Regions from separate parts of the Homo sapiens genome. Here all the other regions are linked to region 3. The links come from fine-mapping of genetic effects on gene expression. A gene starts in region 3. Each other region holds a variant in brackets. All regions are shown on one strand. Distances are between the middles of the regions. Region 1 overlaps MTR (5-methyltetrahydrofolate-homocysteine methyltransferase). Region 2 overlaps MTR (5-methyltetrahydrofolate-homocysteine methyltransferase). Region 3 holds the start of MTR (5-methyltetrahydrofolate-homocysteine methyltransferase).

The links. PIP is the estimated chance that this variant, and not a neighbour inherited with it, causes the effect.
Region 1: its variant is the best candidate, but not a certain one, in a credible set for the expression of MTR in cerebellar hemisphere (GTEx, PIP 0.55).
Region 2: its variant is the best candidate, but not a certain one, in a credible set for the expression of MTR in whole blood (TOPMed, PIP 0.83).

Annotation. Positions count from the first base shown.
Region 1 is chr1:236,846,293-236,853,933 of GRCh38, reverse strand. It overlaps MTR (5-methyltetrahydrofolate-homocysteine methyltransferase), which reads right to left. Exons shown (of 33, transcript NM_000254.3): 16 at 3,411-3,590; 17 at 1,297-1,413; 18 at 846-986. Among named protein-coding and RNA genes, the nearest start is that of MTR, 55 kb to the right of the region's middle. The variant TCAG/G (reference allele first, on the strand shown) is at 3,317.
Region 2 is chr1:236,855,222-236,862,862 of GRCh38, reverse strand. MTR (5-methyltetrahydrofolate-homocysteine methyltransferase) reads right to left here. Exons shown (of 33, transcript NM_000254.3): 19 at 2,941-3,030; 20 at 1,586-1,738; 21 at 520-627. Among named protein-coding and RNA genes, the nearest start is that of MTR, 64 kb to the right of the region's middle. The variant C/T (reference allele first, on the strand shown) is at 4,086.
Region 3 is chr1:236,791,723-236,799,363 of GRCh38, reverse strand. MTR (5-methyltetrahydrofolate-homocysteine methyltransferase) reads right to left here and starts at 4,072. Exons shown (of 33, transcript NM_000254.3): 1 at 3,627-4,072. The coding sequence starts at 3,660. RefSeq lists enhancers at 3,467-3,656, 3,757-4,046.

The DNA of each region.
Region 1 (7,641 bases), 55 kb before region 3:
CAACTTTCCTTAAACTGAATTCTAAGAAGAACCATCTACGATAGATACTTCATGTGCCTAGGACTGCGCCCAACATATAAATGAGAAACAAGCTGGTGTTTGAATTAGCTATAATTATACTCATTTTTTACACATCAAATGTGCACAGACCTAAGCCTTGAACTGCAGAACTTTGCCACAGATGGACCAGATCCTAACATAAACAGGTATACAAACCAAAACATGGAACAGTGGGGACCATGTAACACTAACATAGCCACACAAGAAAATCCAGAACAGCTATTTTAAATAATGAGGTAGAAAAATATCAAGTAAAATGGAAATATGTTCCCAGTACACTGCTAAGAAAAAAATATTACCATAAAAGCATCTAGAGTATAGTTCTATTTTTGTAAAAAATGTATGTATATGTACCTATGCATGCATATTCATTTTGCAAAAAGAAATAAAAACTCCCATCACTTAAAGGTTATAACAAAATCTCAAGTGTTTAACTTTGGGTGGTAGGATTACAAGTGATTTTTATTTTCTTCCTTTGCTTACCAGAATTTTGTAAATTTTCTAGAACTAATATGTTACTTGGTACAAGAAAAATTAATTTTACATTTTACAATAAATTTAAAGAAACCTAAGTTCAGAATACGGAAGCACCCTAGGCATGGTCTGTTTACCCTTCCTTGCCCTAGCTACACCACCATCTCTGCAACTCTCTGTAGAAATCTTCAGTGATCCAAATATATGATTCGATATTTGCTTCTATTCCACCATGAAGGTCTACTAACTGTAGGTGAGTAATACATTCAAAGATAGGAAAAATCCATCTATTAGAACACTTGTCTCTCTACCTGGGCATAACGTAAGAGCTTCTCAGTGGCCTCAGGGTCTTTATTCCAGATGAGATCTTCACAGAGCTGCAGAAGTTCCTTATGGATATCATCATACACAGGGAGGTTTCCAGCATTCACTATCCCCATGTCCATGCCAGACTAAGGGCAATACAAATAAAAATGAGAATTTACAGTGATACCTTAAGTCAGCGATCAGCAAACTTTTCTCTGTAAAGGGCCAGAGAGAAATATTTTAGGCCATAGCCTCTGTCACAGCTACTCAACTTTGTAGTTACAGCATAAAAGCAGCCACAGACAAGATACAAATGAATAGGTGTGGCTCTATCCCAATAAAATCTTATTTACAGAAACTGGCAGCAGGCCGGACTTAGCCTGCATGCCACACTTTGAAAACCCCTGCCCCAACTAAAAACTGGTTTCCGCAGGGCTAAGAGTTCTTCTACCATACCTTGATTGCATGGTAAAGGAAAACCCCATGCATTGCTTCTCGAATGGCTTCCATTCCTCGGAAGGAGAAGGACAAGTTGGAAAGACCTCCACTTATTCTGGCTCCAGGTAATGTTTCCTGGCAAAAATTTTAAAATATGAAAAGATTCCCCTTTTTTGCCAAAAACAGCAATCACATCTCTTAAGCTTTATATAGGAGTGGAAAGAAAAAAAAACAAAAAGCATCCGAAGTTCAAAGTAATTCAGAGCTTCTTGTTACTAGACATAGACCAAAGCTTGCCGTATTACAGTATTACAAAGGCGCTGCTTCGTAAGTAGTTTTTCCTACTAGACTCCAATCTCCCTAAGGAGAACACGCGCGTACACACACACACACACACACGCAGAAAGACAAAGAGGAATTCCTTATTCACTGAAAGTACAAATTACTAGAAGGCTTCCATAGCCTAAATGAACAGACTCCCTAGTTCACTATGAACTTGACCGACTATAAAAGGACAAAAGGAAATTGAAGTTCCAACCATACCGATGACAGTATCAAGCATCATCAGGCTTGTGGAATAACAGGAACTTTCACTATTATTGGCTCAAGAATCTAGGGAGACAGTTTGTCATTATCTACTACTATGAGCCAACCACTTCTGGGTCTATGCTACAGAGAAGTTCAGGCATGCATGTCTAAGATACATATATAAGAATACTCAGAGCTGCATTGTTCATAATGTCCAAAAGCTGGAAAAAAACTAGATGTCCATCAACAATAGAACAGTTAATTGTGGTATAGTTATACCATAGAATATTATACATTAATAAAAATGAACAAACAGCTACAGCCACACAGATAAATCTTTAGTATGGAGTAAGAAAAAAACATAAAAATATTACGATTCTATTTTTATTAGGCTCAAAAGCAGGCAAAACCAAACTATATCATTCAGATATTCAGTCAATTCTTACTATTTTGTGGTAGTTATGTTCTTTAAAGTCACTGCAAACACTGAATTAGGGAATACCAGAGCATTGCTCCTAGGAGAAATACAGGGCTAGGTTCCTATGAGCCTCTGATGACATTTTTGTCAACCAATCAATACATAACCTTGTTTTGTGCATGTATGTTAAGATGCTGTATCTAATATTTACTGTTGATTCATTAAGACTGAATTCACAGCCAATGGCACTATAATTCATGTCTGAACAAAGCTTATCTAACACACATATTTCCTCCCTAAGGAACATCACAGCCTTCTTGTGCTTAGAACACTAGACAGCACTAGTATGGGGCCATTTTAAAAAGTGACCTCACCAACAAAACGCATAAAAGTGTGAAAAACATGGCATTAGACTGCAAAAAGGACATCTGTGTACAGGATGAGAGCTGAAATAAGAAGGTAGGTCACTGCCATGTTTGCCCTCTTTGGGAATAATATGGGTTGGGCCACTCAAATTTTCCACCACTCTGCATATGGGTAAGTCTGAACAACTGCAGAAGTGACGTTGAGTATTGATTTTGGGGTCACAAATAAATTTCAGTAAGTACATGAATTTGCAAATATAAAATCCATAGATGATGCAAATCAAATCTACATATATAAGCAATAAATTTATGAAGAAAAGCAACAGAGTAGCGTCATAAAACTCAGGACAATAGCTACTTTATAAAATTGAGAATGAGGTGTAACTGGAAAAGGAGAGACAGACGGGGGCGCTAGCTATGCTCTATTTTGGGACCTAAGTGAAGGCTCTTATATGCTTCATAATTAATTATTTATCAGGTTCTGTGGTTTTTTTGTTTTGCATCATTTTGTTCAAGGCAGGGCCTCACTCTGTCGCCCAGGCTAGAGCGCACTGGCGTGATCCCAGCTCAATGCAACCTCCACCCTCCTGGGTTCAAGCGAGTTCATCAGGCTCTGTTATGTTCTCCAGTCTGTTTGTTACACAAGTTAAAACTCTACTAAAGAAAAAAAATAAGGTCTCCTACATTTCAGAAAAACAATTTACTAACTAAGAATGTTAACATTTCA[TCAG/G]CCAATAAATATATAAGTTAGTTCTAACCATTCATTAGACCCATGGGACAAATTTGAGCCATGACTTGGGAGAGAACATGCCTACACTTACTTTAATGACTTTTGTTGCATGGATAAAATTAATGGCATACAAGTTGTGTTCCTCCATTCCAGTCCCAATGGTTAGGATATTAGGGTCAAAAATAATGTCATTTGGATTAAAGCCCAGTTTTTTCACAAGCAGATGGTAGGCCCGGGTGCACACTCTGATTTTTGTGTCTGTTTCTGTTGCCTAGGGAAAAGAGCAAAAGATGTAGTTTGAAATAGAAAAATTATCTATTAAAATATTAATATTAAATACCTGTTATTTTATTTTAATAAAATATTAATATTAAAATATTAAGTGTTATACATTAGAGCACATTTCACTCACTGAAAACACTCAAGTGTCAATGCTTGGATTTCACAGAAATCTAAATGCCAAGCAGCTTCCGATCACTTATCAAATTATCTCAGAGGAGAGACTGGTTTAAAGATCTCTTTGTGTTTTCACAAACACAGCAGCTATACTCTTTCTGCAAAAAATCAAACCTTAAACATATACACACATATGGTATATTATGAAAAAGCTTCTAAAAATACATGCATATGATAAAAAATCAAATACTACTAAAGAAGAGATTAACATGTAAGTGCCCCTTCCTCTCTTGACCTGACAGCAGTGTCACAACCTATCACCCAGGAAACACTGCCATTGCTTTCTCAGATCTTCTTGCAAAAACATTCTAAGCATATTCAAGGATATGCATTTATTCCTCACCTTCACCCATTTTAACACTGGCCTAACATGTGTCTTAAGTCATAAATACAAATTAGTCTTTACCTTCAAAATAATGTCCCTAAAAGGCAAAACACTAACTCCGGCAAGGCTCATCCCCCAGCTGCTTCCCAAAAGCCTCAGAATCTCAGCCTCCATCTCCAATCTCATCTCCTACCATTTGCCCTCTCCTCTACTCCGCACCTCCTACATTGCTCCTTTGGTGTTTTTGAAACCCGTCAAGCTTGTTCCTCCCTCAGCAACTTTCATTTATTGCTGCCACTACCAGAACATACCATGACATGGCTTTGTGCTTCACAGAACTAAGGCTTCTGCCCAAGTGCCCCCTTTTCAGAGCCTACCTTAAATCACCCTCTCTAAACCAGCCACTTCCACCCTTCCCCACCTCCTCCATTCTTCTTCGGAGTATTTCTTTCCAGAAATTGTATTATTTTGGCAACATCTTTAGTATTTTTCGTTGTTTTATTACTTGTTAATTGGTAAACTCCTCTCCCCTAGATAGAATGCCAGTCTTGCTTTATCCCCAGTGCCCTGAGCAGTGCCTGTCAAAGTAGGTGCTCAACATTATGTATGAATGCTGCTTTTACTCAAAGTATTTCTGAACTTTGTCATGGAAACTGTCTTCAGATCAAATTTACAACCTCAACACAGGGTATTCACCAAATTACATCCTGAATTATTTCTGGTTGTATGAAAAATCAAATCTACTCTTAAAAAATGATTACTTGCTATCACTCCAGAGATAAGAAAAAATAAGTCACAATTCTGAAGGTCAATTCTCAATGAACGCGAAAAATGTTCTTGAAAAATGGCCAACCCTACTGCAATCTATATTGCAGACTTCTGTGGAGATGAGGGGGTAGGGACACGGACATAGGTCAAGTGCATCTAGTGAGGCCCTAGACAACAGAAATGAGGAGTAGGGGAATTATGAAAAGAACTCTCTCTTAGATCTAGCCTTTTGATCACTTACTACTTTGGTATTCTTTTTCAACTGTTTTCTTTGGTCTCTTTAATCGCTCTCTGCAGCTGGTGGGGTGAGACTTCACCTCTACTTGGGAGGGAAGTGCCTCCAGGACTTAGCAGACAAAATGGCCCAGGGAAAGGGAGACAGGAAGTGGTCTCTGTGGCCTCACTGCACCCAGGCTTTAGGGAAGGTGGCGAGCTTTCGTCTTCCTTAATGGAATTTTCTCAATGCTTACTTCCTCTGCCTTCAGTTAGAGTGAAAAGGTTAAGGTTGAGACTGAGATGTATGTCAGAAAAAACTGGTCAGAAACAGCCCATTTGCAGCTGCCTTTAGGCTTGAACTTTTAAAGTCTACCCTTCACCAGACAGCCCAATAGAGTTCTAGGCTCTAGGTTCATGGCTCATCTAAGCTCACTAAGAGAGAAGGCACAGGGGCGACCAATGCTACTAGTATTACTGAGTAACCTAGTCTGGTTGGTAGATGAAGAAGTCAAGGTCCTGGTCATTCCTCATCTGAGCCATGAATATTATCTGGCCAAGCAGGGCAGGTTGAAGTGAACAGTATGTTACCCACAGGAGAGTAGGGTGTAGGGCCCAGCTGTATACCAAAGACAGCCCTGCTTGTGGGACAAGCAGGTGCATCCTCACAGGACAGGAATTCATTTCTAGAACCAAAACAGAGTCATCAACTCTAACCTCCATAAGGATGAAGCCCTTGTCAAATTGTTCTCATGGCGTCTAGCACAGTATCTGTGCCACATTAACAGATACTCAACCTCTGTCACTTGATTAAACAATGACTCTCAGAGTGAACACGGCATTGGTGTACAGGCCTTTGTCAGGAGCAGGTCATATCTCATATCACGTAAGGTTCACCAAGCTTCTGTCTTACTCCTCACCAGGGCTGTGGGACAGACACACTAATAAAGCCTCAATCGTGCTGGTGGATTTCAGAGATCCAGAATAGAAGTTCAGTAAAACAACGGAATGGCAGCTTTACTCCATCAGGAAGGGCTTTCAACTCTGGTTGCACATTACAATACCCTGGAGGGATTTCTGTTTGCTTGTTTTTTATAATAGTAACACCTCACCCTGAACCAGTTAAATCAGAATCTGGAGATGGGGTCTCAGCAAGTGTTTTGTAAAAGCCCCTTAGTGATGCTAATATAAAGCCAGGTGAGAACCACCAACAGGTGAGATGTGGCACCTTCTTCAGTTGGAGTAGAAGAAAAACTCAGTGAGATTCTAAGCAGCAAGAAGGAAGGAATAAATGCCATTTATAGCTTTATCAAACAGGTTTACTCTTAAGCCATAGAGAAGCTAGACTGTGACCAGTGAGTAGAAGGCTTTACTTAAGAAGCTCATGGCTCAGATTCTGCTAAAATATCACACACTCAGGCAGTAATGCAATAAAACAATTTTTGATTTGGTCATCAAGGCAGACACTGTGAGGAAGAGAAGGACAATGTGTAGAAGACATCTAGATTCTTTAATGTAGTCTGACAAGGAGCAGAGATCGAACAGGGCTAACTTCAGAGGTGAGTTAAAGTTTTAAAATCGAACTGAAGTAGTTGAAGATGGGCGAGAGAACCCTGGAGGAAGCAGAGGCCCATCCTGGGGCTGTAATTAAAAAAAGAAGTGGCCCGGCCCAGTACAATGGCTCACATCTGTAATCCCAGCACTTTGGGAGGCTGAGGCAGGTGGATCACCTGAGGTCAGGAGTTCGAGAACAGCCTGGCCAACATGGTGAAAACCCATCTCTACTAAAAATACAAAAATTAGCCAGTTGTGGTGGCAAAGGCCTGTAGTCCCAGCTACTTGGGAGGCTGAGTCAGGAGAATTGCTTGAACCCGGGAAGCGGAGGTTGCAGTGAGCTGAGATCACGCCACCGCACTTCAGCCTGCACGACAGAGTGAGACTTGATCTCAAAAAAACAAAAACAAAAACAAAAACAAAAAAAACAGAAGTGATGGAAACGGATGTTTGTGCCTTTCAAGAGAGACACTGACAAGTAGGAAGGGAAACACTGAAGAAAAGGAAGTTTCCAAGGGAAAAAATCTAAAAATCAATACCAAAGGGAAAAAATTTACCAAAGAAAAAATAAGCCAATTACAATAAAAACAACAAACAAAACACACAGGAATGATCTAGAGATTGCCTATTTAGGGATAATTACAAAACTCCATTGAATGAGTAATTGAAAGACACGCCATGTTCCTCAATGACAAATCTAAACACTGGCAAGATACCAATTCCTTGTTATTTTCCAGGTTAGGATTAATTAGATATTAATCAAGATCCAATGGTTCTCCATAATTAGAAATTTATTTTCAAATCATTTTAAAACAAGAAAATGAAAAAAACAGGAAAATGTGTTGCATATATTGATTATTCTTTTATATAGTTTACACATGTGCAAACAAAAACTAATATAGACTATTCTGCTATTATGTGATAATTATATTTCTAAGACACTTCACGTTATCAAAAATTGTCATACAAAGTCATTTTTGTGAACCTAAGGATTATATGAAAAAAA
Region 2 (7,641 bases), 63 kb before region 3:
TGAGCTTCACAGGGAGCTAAACAAGGTCAAAAAGCTTAATGATTTACTCTGGTGGTGCAGCCAACAAGAATTAAATTGAATCCAGAAGTGGTGCCAAGGACATCACCAGCAGAAAGACTATTCAGTTAAGAGTTTTCTAAAAACAAGCATGACTCAATGACCTCAAGGGCGGGGACAGACCTTTGAGTGAGCAGTGCCTGGCACAGTACTTGGCACATCACAGCAGCTTCGTAAATGATCAGGTAATGAAGGCACAAATGAATGAACTGGCTTTGTCTTGAAAACATGGGTTTTGATTGAAAAATTGTATCTATATTAAAAATGTTATAAAGCTACATTCAAAAGAAAGTCCCAGAGTATTCTGATACTCGGTTAAAAAAGGGAGAGATGTGGGATCATTTCTCTATTTTATCCTCAATAACGAACACAGCCAACCCTGACTGCTTAGGCCCCTACCACCACCTCAAGTCTTCCAGGTCAACCCACTAAAGGCCCATAGGCCTGAACAAAATGACTTGCCTCTTCTTCTACTGTGCCGTTAAGCACTCTGGTTTCTTCTCTTTCTTTTTCCATGAAAGGGATAAGGTGGCCAACAGCCTTCTTCATAACCCGGGCTGACTTTATAACCTGAGAAAAAAAGCATAGATCAGGTATCTTTCCCAAACCACAGGAACAACTGCTGATGGCCACTTGTGAAATTTGGGCACACATTAGGAATGCATGCTTTGACTTCAGGACAGCTACACTGGAGTCTTTTGACAGTAGGCAGAACAAAGGATAAGCTCCCCAGAGGGAAAGCCAGTGAATAATAAGGTACAGCAGAAGGAAAACAAGGCTGGAAATCAAATGTTGCAATTTCTGTCTTCTGAACTTTGGCTTGTTTTTTTTTCCTCTGTCTAGGAGGCCCTCTATCTTTTATCCAAGAGTTCTATGTATCCTTCAGGACCAAAGCTTCTCCACCATGAGCTCATTCCCAGCCTTCTCTTCTCAATCCCCAGCTTTAAAACTCACTTAAAATCCAGTCTTACATTAAGGCAAGATGAAGGCCTTTTAGTTTCTCAAATGCCGCACAGCCACTAACCTACATGCTCAACAAGTATGTGTTAACTGATGTGGTTAGCAGCTGCTGTAAATCAAAGTAAGAGTTCTGGTTTTACTTTAAACAAACCACTTAATGTACCGTCATTTAAAACAGTAACATTTGTCTCAAAATATGCATCCTTACAGATGAACAGTGCCTGGTCAAATCAAGTCTTAATGTTAGTAACTCTACATTTATCTTGGGTTTTACTTTACTTTTGGAGGGGAGAGATAGGCACTGGGGGTAAGAGGTGATACAAAAATTAGAACATAAGGATTATGATAGATTATGATGCTAAGAATTTTCGGATTTCCAACATCCACACCACTCTGAAGACGGATTCTTGCAGACATGACTCCTAAACATATTTAGAGAAGGAATGACTAGCCAATACCATTGAACTCTTGTCCAAATTAAAACCTGAGAAATATATCCCAAATCGCCATTTATTAAATGACAAAGAAAAGATGCAACTGTGAAAATTTCTCCCCATATTTTGCTAACCTGAGGTAGAAACATTTTTCCAGCTCCAAAAAGATCACCAACAATTTTCATTCCATTCATCAGGGGTCCTTCAATTATATTGAGAGGTCGGGGATATTTTTTTTGGTTTAACCTGGCTTCCTCAGTATCCTCAATAATATGTTTTTCAATGCCCTAAAAAAGACAAAAAAAAAAAAAAAAGAAAAAGAAAGAAAGAAAAAAAAAATCACCTAAAAAACTGCCTTACCTCCACAGAGCCATCATGAAAATGCCTAACAGCACAGGTTCCAGAAGCAGAGTGCATGGACTCAATCTGGCTTCCTATCACTAATTTAGGCAATTCAATAAGCCTCAGTTTCCTCAATTAGAATATTACAATAGTATCTCATATGTTTATTTTGAGGATTGAGATAAAGTGCTTAGCTGGCTTTATTGATACAAACAAAGTAAATACCTCATACACTTCCAAAACAGAATGTTGTATGCAGTAAATACATACAATTTTATATGCCAATTAAAAAATGCTTTAAAATATACCTCAGTAAAATGTGCTAACAGAGAAGGACTAATAAGTTCAAATGCATAAAATCCATTTTGTATCTTCGTGTTTTACCAGATTATACATTAATAAATGCCTGTGGAGAAATCAGTAAGTTTTCTCACTGTAATGCTGTAGGGCTGGGGAGAAATGACACTGGATGAGGCCCTTAAATGAAGTTCAAATCCATGAAGCCTCCATTGACTTATCCGCCCTTCAATGACAAGCCCCACTCCTCCAAGGTCCCCAGTTCAATGATCCTTGGATTGGCCAACTAGCTCCACAAACTGAAATATGTGAATCTCAAAAGGTGAAAGAGTTAAATGTTAAACTCCAGAGCCAAAAAAAAACAAAACAAAACAAAACTCTGAGATTCTCCAGACTCACACATGAGGAAACTGAAGCCAAGAGATTACTGATCTTGCTTAAAGCCTAAAATTCCAACTATGAAACTGACTTGCTGACCAACTGACCAGCAACTTGGTCCAGGACAGGATTCGCAGCCTCGGCGCTACTAACACTTGGGAAGGAATATTCTTTGTGGTTTGGGGCTGTCCTGGGCACTGCAGGATGTTTAGCAGCACCCCTGGCCATAGGATGCCAGTAATACCTCCCAGGCACAGTTACGACAATCAAAAATGTCTCTGAACACTGTCAAATGTGCTATGGTGGGGGGGGGGGGGGGGGGGGGCAGCTGGGGGACAGCAAGAGGGACCTCCCCAGGTTGAGAATCAGTGGTCTAGGCATCTCCTTCTCCAGCTACTGTCACACCGCCCACAACAGGATCAGTCAGCCATGATGAGCCTCCAGCCCTCCAGTTCAGGCCCCTGTAACTTACCTTCACAAGGGCATACTCAAGGCGTTCTTCGACAGGGCCATTTCTCCACTCATCAGTCTGAATGACTTTCTTCCCTCCTGTGCCTTGAGTCTGAATTGAAATTGAAACCAAGAAATGGATACAACTCATCACTAACCAAACTGTTTGATGGCAAAACAAACAAACAAACAAAAAAACCTGTGTCTTATTCTTCTTTTACTTTTCCAGCCCCTAGTAGACTGTCCAGCATAAAATAAGATCTCAATGAATGTTTGAGGGAAGGAGAGGGAAAAATGAGAAATCTTTTAGGGTTTGAACTGTTAGTGTAGAGACAGAGTAAAATTCCATTCTTTCCTTTCCCTCTTTTCTAAAAATAACAACTCAACACAAAATTTCCAGGACAGTAAGAGAAGCTATACTCCAAACCCAATGAGCCTTCAAAGCTCTCAACAAGGATCACCAGTACCCAAAAACAGATGCAGGGAGGCCATAATGAAGCTAAGTCAGACATCAAAGGTGGGCACACTAGGAGGTGTACGACACAGACTATGCTCTCAAGGACTCTGCCATTGTTATGGTTTGAAGGTGTCCTCCAAAAGTTGTGTTGGAAACCTAATCCCTCTGCCCCCATGAATGGATTAACGAATTTATGACGGCTGGATTAATGTTGCTACCATGGAAGCAGGTTTGCTATCTCTCTGGCTCTCTTGCTCTTGCCCTCTTGACATGAGATGCCCTCTGCCATGTTATGACACAGCAAGAAGGCCCTCACCAGGGGCCAAGGCCATACTCTTGGATTTTCCAGCTGCCAGAATTGTGAGCTAAATAAACTTCTTTATAAATTATCCAGTCTTTGGTATTCCGTTAGAGCCAAAGAAAACAGAGTAAGACAGCCATGTCATAAGAGAGGTAGAAAATATGTAAAGAAAGAAAGGGAGTATATGTCAAGGGCTGAATGAGTACATAATACAGACTAAGTACATAGGAATTTTGAGGAAGGAATGGTTATCGTAAGCTAAGGTGGCAAAGAAAAGTTTCAAAGAAGCTGAATGATGAGAAGGGGCAGATTCAGCAAAGGAACAAAAGCGCAATGATCATGGCACACCTGATAAATTGCATTACTTTATTGTTTTCTCCACCTCAACTGGAGGTACCAGCTGCCAAAC[C/T]GGAAACCTAAGTATCACCTTTGAATCTCCATTCACTACTCAAATTCAATCAATCACCTCATCCTAATGATTACACCTCAAAACTTTTTCTCTCCACCCTGCTTCCATTTTCACAGCCCAAGAACTAAGTAGTCTCCACAGCCCAGAATCATTCTGGTCTCTGATTCATCTTCCACACTGTAGCCAAAAGGATGCTTCCAAAATGCAAATCTGATCCAACTGCTCCCTGTGAAAAAAATCTCTGTGTAAGTTTCCTATTGCTTTCACGACATGGTACTGATTCCTTACCATGCCATCCAATGCCCTGATGAGATGGTTTGGCTGTGACCCCACCCAAATCTCATCTTGAATTGTAGCTCCCACAATTCCCACACGTCGTGGGAGGGACCCAGTGGGAGGTAACTGAATCATGGAGACGGGTCTTTCCTGTGCTGTTCTTGTGATAGTGAGTAAGTCTCACAAGATCTAATGGTTTTATAAAGGGGTTTCCCTGCACAAGTTCCCTCTCTTATCTGCTGTCATGTAAGACGTGCTTTTCACCTTCCATTATGATTGTGAGACCTCCCCAGCCACGTGGAACCGTGAGTCCATTAAACCTCCTTTTCTTCATAAATTACCCAGTCTCGGGTATGTCTTTATCAGCAGCATGAGAATGGACTAGTACACCTGATCTGGCTTTCTCTTCTGCCATTCCCGACAAGCTTCAGCCATCCAGAACACTTCTGTTCCTTATGCTCCCCTCCCCATCAACTCTTTACCACCAGGCCTTCGCATTTGTTCATCTGACATACATTTATGCAGTACCTATGACCATGCCAGACTCTGGCTACATGCAAATATCTCTCCCCTGGCAGGGACCACCAGCACTGCACTCTACCCCCAAACCTTGGCCTGGCCACCTCCTTTATTTCTCTCAAGTCTCACCTGACCTATCACTTCCCCTGGGAAGCTTTCCCTGACCATCTCTAGTTTGGGGTCAGAATCTCCCTCAGGCTTCTCCTAGCGTCCTGCACTTCCCCTCTCACAGCACTTGCTGCGCTGGGTGACAATCACCTCTATACATTTCTGCATGTATCACTGAGCTGTAGGCTCTCAGAGGGTAGGGGTACATCTCTCTTACTAGTTAGATCCTCTAAGTTCAGTCAAATGAATGGCACAAAGCGACATTTTAGTAAATATTAGCTGGATGAATTAATGCTACACAAAGACTGATTTTGCTGGAGTAATGTTTGTCCAGGGTGGTAGAGGCCAAGACACAGAGGGCCAAAAACCCATGCGGTGGAGTTTAAATTTGACCTTCCAGGCAATTGCATGGGCAGAAGGGGGAGACATTATTCAAAGTTCTAAAGCTGCAGATTAACATTCAAAGTCACATTTTTAAGGGAATCACAAAATGGGGAGAATATTTTAATAGTCCTTGATGGAGGCCTGGACTCAGTAGTGGTAACAGGAGGAAAGGAAAGGACAAATATAAAGGTATTAATAGACAATAACTAAGAAGGAGAGGAGGGAGAAATGCAAATCAAAAGCACAATGAGATACCATATCACGCCAGTTAGAATGGCGATAAAAAGTCAGGAAACAACAGATGCTGGAGAGGATGTGGAGAAATAGGAATGCTTTTACACTGCTGATGGGAGTGTAAATTAGTTCTACCATTGTGGAAGGCAGTGCAGCGATTCCTCAAGGATCTAGAACCAGAAATACCATTTGACCCAGTAATCCCCATTACTGGGTATATACCCAAAGGATTATAAATCATTCTACTATAAAGATACATACACGTATGTTTATTGCGGCACTGTTCACAGTAGCAAAGACTTGAAACCAACCCAAATACCCATCAATGATAGACTGGATAAAGAAAATGTGGCACATATACACCATGGAATACTATGAAGCCATAAAAAAGGATGAGTTCATGTCCTTTGCAGGGACATGGATGAAGCTGGAAACCATCACACTCAACAAACTAACACAGGAACAGAAAACGAAACACTGCATGTTCTCACTCATAAGTGGGAGTTGAACAATGAGAACACATGGACACAGGGAGGGGAACATCACATACCAGGGCCTGTCGGGGGGTTGGGAAGCTAGGGAAGGGATAGCATTAGGAGAAATACCTAATATAGATGATGGGGTGATGGTGCAGCAAACCACCATAGCATGTGTATACCTGTGTAACAAACCTGCACATTCTGCATGTGTATCCCAGAACTTAAAGTATAAAAATAATAATAATAGAAGAAGAAAAAAAAAGAAAGAAGAAGAACAAGAAGAAAGAAGAAAGAAAAAAAGAAAGAAGAAAGAAGAAAGAAGAAGGAGAGGAGGAAGGAATTGGGGAGAACTCCAAGATTTAGGGCCAAAGTGGTAACTGGAATAATAATACAAGGACTCTCATATGTTGAAAAACCTGAACGAGATAGTAAAAAAAAAGAAAAAGTCCCTCTGATGTTCACAGTCCCATCACTTGATACCTGTAAATACCATTTGTTCTATTAGCCACACAATCAGACAACTCCTACCTGGGGGATGGAGTTTTGCTGTGTAAAAACAGGGCGGTGTGTTCCAAACACTCTTGAAAAAAGGAACTGGTGTGTTCACAGAAAAATACCACAATGTACCAGACTTATGGGGTGGGAAGGGAGCAAAAAATATATGATTATGGACAGAGGCAAAAGAGGCTACAAACAGCAGTAAAGAATTCACTGAAGTGTTGGAGGTTGTGATGTCTAAAAACTATCCCACCTGATAGCTATGTTCCAAACCTGATGAATTTGACTCATGAAAGCAATACTTAAAATGAAACAGTACAGTTAAAAGCAGTTATTTCAGAAATACACAATGGCATGCTGAGGCCCATCTCACTATTCATGTAGTTATTCAATAGGGAGTTCTCCATGATACACAAACAAGGTGCTACACAGTTTTCACATACTAAGGAAGACCAGACCCAGGCACACTGTGGAAGCTTACATAGAAAGCTACCAAGCAAACTGACCAAGCAATTGTCATGTCCATCTGGCTACTCCTTGTATCTGTACGTGTACAAAGCTAATGAGAAAAACTACTTCTTCCCACTCTAGAGTTGCTTCTGCCTCACAGGGGCCTCACGGTTGTGTAGGTTATCAAAGGGAGTAAACTGCTGCAGAGAAAGCCAAGGAAGAATGTGAGCTCAAATGGTGAAGGAAGGGATCAAGGCCAAATCAAAGAACAGAAAACTTTCCCAGAAAGTATCAAGAATATTCTCAAGCTCCCGGGTCATTCCACAGCCATCCTATCCAGAGCACCAATCCTTCCACTCCATAGGAGGCCTGGCCTCCATTAGGGTACCATTTAATAAAGATCCTCCATGTAAATTACATGGTATCTGGAAATTTTTATTATCAAAAATAATTTACTTACCACAGGTCAGTCTGAACTAAATTAGGAAAATTGTTTTTCAAAAAAATCCCATTCCTCCCCAAATGTGAGATTAGAGAGCCTTGGAAGATCAGAGGCTATACTCTTCCCACTAGTTTCAATAATATATCAGACAGGAATCTGGGTGCAG
Region 3 (7,641 bases):
ATCACTGAGTCCACGAGTTCGAAAACAGCCTGGGCAACACAGTGGCCTCATCTCTACAAAAAAAAAAAACAAAAATTAGCCAAGCCTGGTAGTATGCACCTGTAGTCCCAGCTACTAGTAAGGCTGAGGCAAGAAAACTGCTTGAGCCTGGGAAGTCGAGGCTGCAGTGAACCGTGATCACGCCACTGCCCTCAGCTTGGGCAACAGAGTGAGACTGTCTCAAGAAAAAGGGGGAAAAAAAAAAACATAGTTTCCTCAACTACTTGCTTATTTTTCCTTTAGAGGATAATGTAAGATTTCCCATTTAGAGAAACTAAGAAGTCTTCCTTCAGAAAATCTGTTGGTATTAAGTGTTCACTATTTTTAGCCTTCTGTATTCCTCCAGTTTTTCCAGTAGGAGGTCATTTTTCACTGGGCTTTAATTACCATTCTAATTCACCAGTTTCCAATTACTATCAGAACTTGCTCAAAAGAATAAGTCACCTTGACAATTCCTTCCCCTGGCAGAGTGGGGATCTACTGAAATGTCACTCTTCCATGAAGAACAACAAAATTGTATTTATCTGTATTCAGTTCATTAGGTCTAGAACATTCTGTATACTTAACTACTGACTAGTCAAGTTCTAAATAAAGCAGATTCTTTCTGATTATCTTTCACAGTAAATATAAGAATATAGTTTTGCAGTTCCTTTACTTAGCTGACTAGTTATAACACTATTTCAGAAATATTTTTATGTTTAATGTATATATGTAAATAACCGCAGTGCAGAGGAGAGTCCCAAGGAACATCCTTGGCTAGTGAGCCTAAGAGATCACACAGTATTTTCTCCAGTTTTGAGTGGATTTAGCCAATATATTTTGTGGGGTTTTTTTCCGTGCCCTTAACATCTTATTTTCTAGCTAACAATATTCTGATTCACAGCAAGTGTTCCAAAGAATAAACATAGGTATAAGTGGTTAAAGCCCTAGTCAGATTTGGAGGGGGGTAGACCAGCTAGTACCACCTTTAAGAACTAGCCTAAAGAATGACAAGATGAAGGCCTAAACAAATAAATTCCTAATATGTGCATGTAAGTTATAAATTGCAGTGTCAAGAACACATCTGCTCTGAAGGTAAAATGACCCCAAATAGATCTGACTTACTTAGGACCCCTCTTTCCACTGTGCTAAATGGGGAACACATACAGCAAAAGCACATTTTTATTTTCTGCATTATAATCAAATGATCCCAAGGCTTTCTCAGCACTGTTCTTTCTTTGCTTTATTAAAAACAATCTTACTACTGCCCTACAAGTCACTTGCAAGATACTTCTCTCTTTCATTTTTGGATCTCTAATTTCTAGTTTGCACAGACTTGCTACACTTTGTTTTTTTGGTTTTGTTTTGTTTTGTTTTGTTTTTTTTTGGAGACTAAGTCTCACTCTCTCACCCAGGATGGAGTGCAGTGGCATGATCTCGGCTCACTGCAACCTCAGCCTCCAGGGTTCAAGCGATTCTCCTGCCTCAGCCTCCTGAGTAGCTGGGGTTATAGGCGCTCACTATAAACCCAGCTAATTTTTGTATTTTTAGTACAGATGGGGTTTCACCATGTTGGCCAGGCTGGTCTCGAACTCCTGACCTCAGGTGACCCGCACGCCTCGGCCTCCCAAAGTGCTGGGATTACAGATATGAGCCACCGCGCCCAGCTTCTTTGGGGGCATCTCTTTGCTTGTGCAGTATTCCATTTTTAATATATATTATTTCCCCCTTTGATTTTAATAAGCCGGAGAAGAATTAGGCTGATACCAATTCACTGGATTATTCATTCCTTCATTAATCACTCATCAATTGATACCAATTCACTGGATTATTCATTCCTTCATTAATCACTCATCAATTGAGTTCCAAATAACACTCACAGTCCTAAGCAAGGATGAAACCAAGAAACTTTTAGAAGCTGTAGTTAAAATTTTCTCCCAAGATGTATTTGCTAGCCCACCATCCTCCTTCCCCAGGGCACACAACCATGGTCTGAAGTCACATTTAGTTTTAAGGCCCAACCTTGAGAATCAGGAATTCCCAGCTCTCCATTAAAATTTCATTAAGATTGTACGCCAGTAAATTACTAAGGGTTATTAGGAAGTTAAAACCTGATTCTAATCCCAATAAAAGTTGCTCACATAGACAGAAGCTGGACTACATCTAAGGTCTTTTCTAGGCACAATGGCCTGATTCAGAACTTCAGAGGCCCTAGACTTGGTTAAACTCCACTCAGTGCTCAACTCTAGAAGCCAGCCTTGGGGGTGAGGGGACTAGGCAAGATTCAAACATTCAACAATTTTCCTTTCAGTTTATTTTTTTTTTTTAAATCACTCACTATTCACAGTATTTTAAGTCTTCAGTGGCATTTTGCTCCTGATAATGACACCTAAATTCAGATGAAAGGGAAATAACTTTACTTGTTTAAATTAAATGGGAAGGGGGAGGCCAGAAATCATGAGTAAAAGATGTTTTCCAAATAAATATGATCTCCCTATGATCATTTATTCAATAAGATATAAATCTCTTATAGGGAGGTTTACATTTATTAATTAAATATTAAATATAAATAAGATGTAACCTCATTACATCTTATTTAATATATTAAATAACATATAAACCTCTCATAGGGAGGTTTATATCTTATTTAATAACAGCAGTGATGTGTTTCTCAGCCACAGTTCCACTAGTTTCAAGAACAATTATATCAGTCCCGTTATCAGAACCCAAGAATCAAGAGAGTCACCGGTTAACCTCTGATAAATTTCCTTGTGCGTTACGAATTTAGTATTCCCCCTCTTCCTGAAGCTAAACATCCCCACTATGTGATAGGATATTTACTGTTTTGTACTTATCACTAATTCTCGTTTCTACATCTCCTCACCCGTTTTTACGGGTGTATTTGTCCTCAAATTATAATCAGGCATGACCTTAGAGATCTAGAGCTCGTTATAAAGCTAACATTACGTTCAGTTCTCGTGCTAAACTAGCTTTTTCTCACTGTTGATCCCAGGGCCACCAACATCAGAATCGCTTGAAATTACTACCTCCCATTTCGGTATCTGGAGGTGGGGTCTGCTCATCTATTTTAACATAGTGAGTCTATGCATATTGCAGTTTTGCAGCAGCGTGCGTAGAAGCAGAAAATAAAAAGTTCCATGTAGTAGTTTTAAATAGTTCTCTGAGTTTCCTCGTCTGTCTCTCCGCGCCTGAACTTTCTTTCGCAGTAGGTGCGCAATACATATTTACGAATAAGCGTCACACCATGCAAAAAAAAAAACTTCCAGAGGGCCCAGCTGGTTTATGCTGCGTGGAACTGGAAAGTTTAGTTACTGTGACGTTAAGAATGTGTTTCGGGGGCGAGGGGAGGACGCTTTTTGCAGGTTTTGATGGCTTGCCTGGGGAGAAAGAGGTGAAGGTCGGACAAAGAGTGGAGCAAAACACGTAGCCCTCCGGGCTCCTGCGCTAAGTTCTAAAGGTGCCGCCCACACGCGGGGAAACACCGCCGGGCGTCTCCCGCCGCAGAAGGGAATCGCCCCAGGGATTAGGAGGCCACAGCACGAGTTAAGAAACACAACCCAACCACGCAGACGGGGTCGCAGCGTTACCGGGTTGCGACAGGTCTTGGAGCGCGGGTGACATGTTGTCGAGTCTCCTCCTTGCGCAGAGGGCGCGGCAGAGAAGACGTGCTCTCCACAGGTGACGACGGCCAAGGGCCACGCCAGCCAGCGCCAGGCGAGCCTGCCACACAAGGCCCGGGTCTTTTGACGCCTCCCGTTGGCTCGCGTCGCGGGGGGACTGCGGACCCCGAAAGCCCGCAGCGCCCTAGGGCCTCTCTCGGGGCTGGGCGCGGCAACTGCTGGAGCACGTGCTTTCTTCCCGGGTACCCGGCCAGTCCTTGGTGTCGGCCTAGCAGCCAGACACGCGCGGCCAGAGGCGGAGTCGCGGGACGGCACGGAAAAGGACCCAAGAGAAAACCGGCAGAGGAGGACGACGTGACATCCGGCTCTGAGCCCCGCAGACATTTAGAACCTTTCAGAGCGCGGTTAGTTCTGCGCTCAATCTATCCTCGGCGTGGGAGGTCCCGCCCCTTCCGGCCTGTGATTGGTCTGCCCGAGCTCCTCGCAGCCGCATTGGCTGTCAATATCAACCAATCACCTGCTGTTTAGCCCCGGGGCTCTCTGGGAGATGTAGTCCCGCTCCCCAGTTTCCCGCGGGAGCTTTTCGCGTCTCTGTGTGCCCAGGATCCGGAAGTGTAAGCCTAAGTGGCCCCTCTAAGGAAAAGTCACAGCGCCAAGTTCGTGCTGATCTCGACACGCTGTGTGGTGTCGAGCCTGAAATTTTAGTTCCGTTTTGCTGTTGACTTGCGCTGGGCAAGACAGTTAACCTCTCAGTCTCCACACTCTACAAACAAGAATGATAGGATGGTAGTAATTAGAATTTTTTAGGGTTGTAGTAGGCGTTAAATGAGATCGTTTGACCGCGCTATGAAAACTCTGAATTACCATATGGGGGTGTTAATTGTAACTTATTGACAGTAAACATATATTGAGCACCTACTATGTGTCAGGCATTGGGGCACACACTTGGAATGCAAAATCAGACAAGCTACATCGCACCCTCACGTCCTTGGAGGAGGAACTCACAACCTAGTTAGATTAATAATTGAACAGGGAAAAAAGAACCACATACATTTTAAAAGAGCTAGAGTATTCAAAGGGGCCAGGGAAAGGTTTCAAAGAAGAATCTGGGTCCTGAAGGAAGAGTGGTACCAGGTAAGGTTGTTCCAGTCAGGAGAAGCTCCCTGTGTACAACACAGCACTTTAGGGAATTCTAAAATAAAGGGCAGCTCTGTAAGGCCGAGCATGGTAGATGTGAGAAAAAGCAAATTCATCTAGAAAAATCTCTGTAAGGCTGAGCATGGTAGATGTAAGGAAAAGCAAATGCATCCAGAAAAATAAAAACTATAACCAAATTATGACATTTACTAAGCTTTAAAAAAGGCACAAATTTGCATGCCATTCTCATTTTATTGTATGTAATTATACCTCAATTTTGAAGATTTGAAAAATTATTATAATGCGTATCACATTCTTACCAAGACCATCTTACCAAAGATGGTCTTACTTGGAAGGTGGGGGGAATGGAGTAGGTGAGAGAGAATGCAACAAAGAAGGGAGGGAGGAATGAGATGGCCCTAAATAGCCAAAAATCTTAAGATTATAAGGGCTAGGGTGAGAGTAGGTGAGGGATAAACGACTACACATTGGGTGCAGTGTCCACTGCCTAGGTGATGGGTGCACCAAACTCTCAAATCACCACTAAAGAACTTATTCATGTAACCAAACACCACCTGCTCCCCAAAAACCTATTGAAATAAATAAGTTAAAAAAAAAGAAGAAGAAAAGGAGGAAAGAAAAAAAAGCAAGGTCTTCTATGCTGAACTTATTAAATTATTTATCCAGGCTTGATAAATCATGATGGTTTTCTCATATTTATTATTATGTTTATTCATTTCTCAACTCCTGAGTTTTTATCTGCAAAAAAAGAAGTAGTGAAATTTAACTGTGTAAAGATGCACCTGTCTAAAAAAAAAAAAAAAAGATTATAAGGGCTAGTTGTTTGTTTGTTTGAGACGGAGTCTCACTCTGTCGCACAGTCTGGAGCGCACTGGCACGATCTTGGCTCAGCTCACTGCAACCTCCGCCTCCCGGGTTGAAGCTAGTTTTTTAATTATCATGTATCCCTCAAAGTTTGTTGACGTGTTTCTTGAAAAATGATCTTTCAGGCACCTAGTCGGCAACTGTCCCCCATTCACATTCTCTTACTGGAAATTCCAGGAGTTGTGTGCCAGTCCCTGTTTGATGCAAGTCATCAAAGTTTACTCTCTCAGCTAAAACTGACCAAATTCTGTATTTCTTAAAGTCGTAAAAGAGTAACAAATAAGATTAGAGGAATACATAGTGCCTAAAGGGGCAGTGAATTTCTAGTACAAAAACGCGATTTACAGTTCCAAGAATACTGTATGGGTTGCAATGTGTCCCCCTCAAAGATATGTTGAAGCCCTAACTTCCAGTGCTTCAGAATATGACCCTATTTGGGCCGGGTGCAGTGGCTCACACCCGCAATCCCAGCACTTTGGGAGGCCGAGACTGGTGGATCGCTTGAGGCCAGGAGTTCGAGACCAGCCTGGGCAATATGGTGAAACCCCATCTCTGCTAAAAATACAAAAATTAACCAGGCGTGGTGGCTCACATCTGTAATCCCAGCACTTTGGGAGGCTGAGGTGGGCGGATCACCTGAGGTCGGGTGTTCGAGACCAGCCTGCCCAACATGGAGAAACGCCGTCTCTACTAAAAATACAAAATTAGCCGGGTGTGGTGGTGCATGCCTGTAATCCCAGCTATTCGAGAGGCCGAGGCAGGAGAATCACTTGAACCCGGGAGGGGGAGGTTGCAGTGAACCGAGATTGTGCCATTGCACTCCAGCCTGGGCAACAAGAGTGAAACTCCGTCTCAAAAAAAAAGAAAGAAAAAAAGAAAAGAAAAAGAAAAACACAAAAATTAGCCGAGTGTGGTGGCACATGCCTGTAATCCCAGCTACTGGAGGCAGAGGTGGGAGAATCGCTTGAACCTGGCAGGGTGAAGGTTGCAGTGAGTGGAGATTGAGCCACTACACTCCAGCCTGGGCAACAGAGAGATACTCAGACTCAAAAAAAAAAAAAAAAAAAAAAAGAATATGACCTTAATGACCCTATTTGGAAATAGGTTTGTTGCAGGTTAGTTTAGTTATGAGATCATCATCCAGCGTAGCTGGTGTCCTTATGAGAAGGGGAGATACACGAGGAGAAAAGAGCCACTTGCCAACAAAGGTGGAGACTGGAGGGAAGCACCTGCAAACCAGGGAACTCCAAGGATTGCCAGCAGACATCCAAATCTAGAAGAGACAAGAAAGGGTTCTCCCTTGTAGGTTTCAGAAAAAGCATTACTCTGCCTACACCTCAATTTGGGACCTCTTGCTTCCAGAACTGTCAGGTAATAAATTTCTGTTGTTTTAAGCCACTCAGTTTTTGTACTTCCTCGGAAACTCTAAAGCAATCCTTGGAAACTAATACAACTATATCTGTGGATGGGCTGGGACTAACGAGGGTCTCTATCTCTGTAGGAGAGAACCTGCTATTTTAAGTTGGTGATAGCCTGCTAGCCTGCTTTTTTCCCCCTCATTAAGCTCATTCTCATTAAACTCATCCAACACAAACCCATTGTTTAGAGGTTAGGGTCCAAACAACCTCTTGGTGATTTGGGACTTCTTTCCCTGTGGATTTGTCTTCATAGATAGAAGTGGAGATCAGTGAACCTAAATATCCAACTCCTACTGTATAGCAGTAGCAAATTGACATTCCAGCTTTATGCATTATTCTCTGGTCTTGGTGGTTGTGTCAAACCCATTAGGTGGCTCTTTGTGTCCTGCTAGTCAAGAGTCTTGCAAATATAAACTATGGGCCAGATCTGGAACAAGGATGTACTACTTCTGGAGTCTACTGGGGTGACCATGGGTTTTCCCCCAGAAGATCCCTGTCACAAAGGTGAGCCCCGCTATTTCCTTCCCTCAAATCCCTTCATA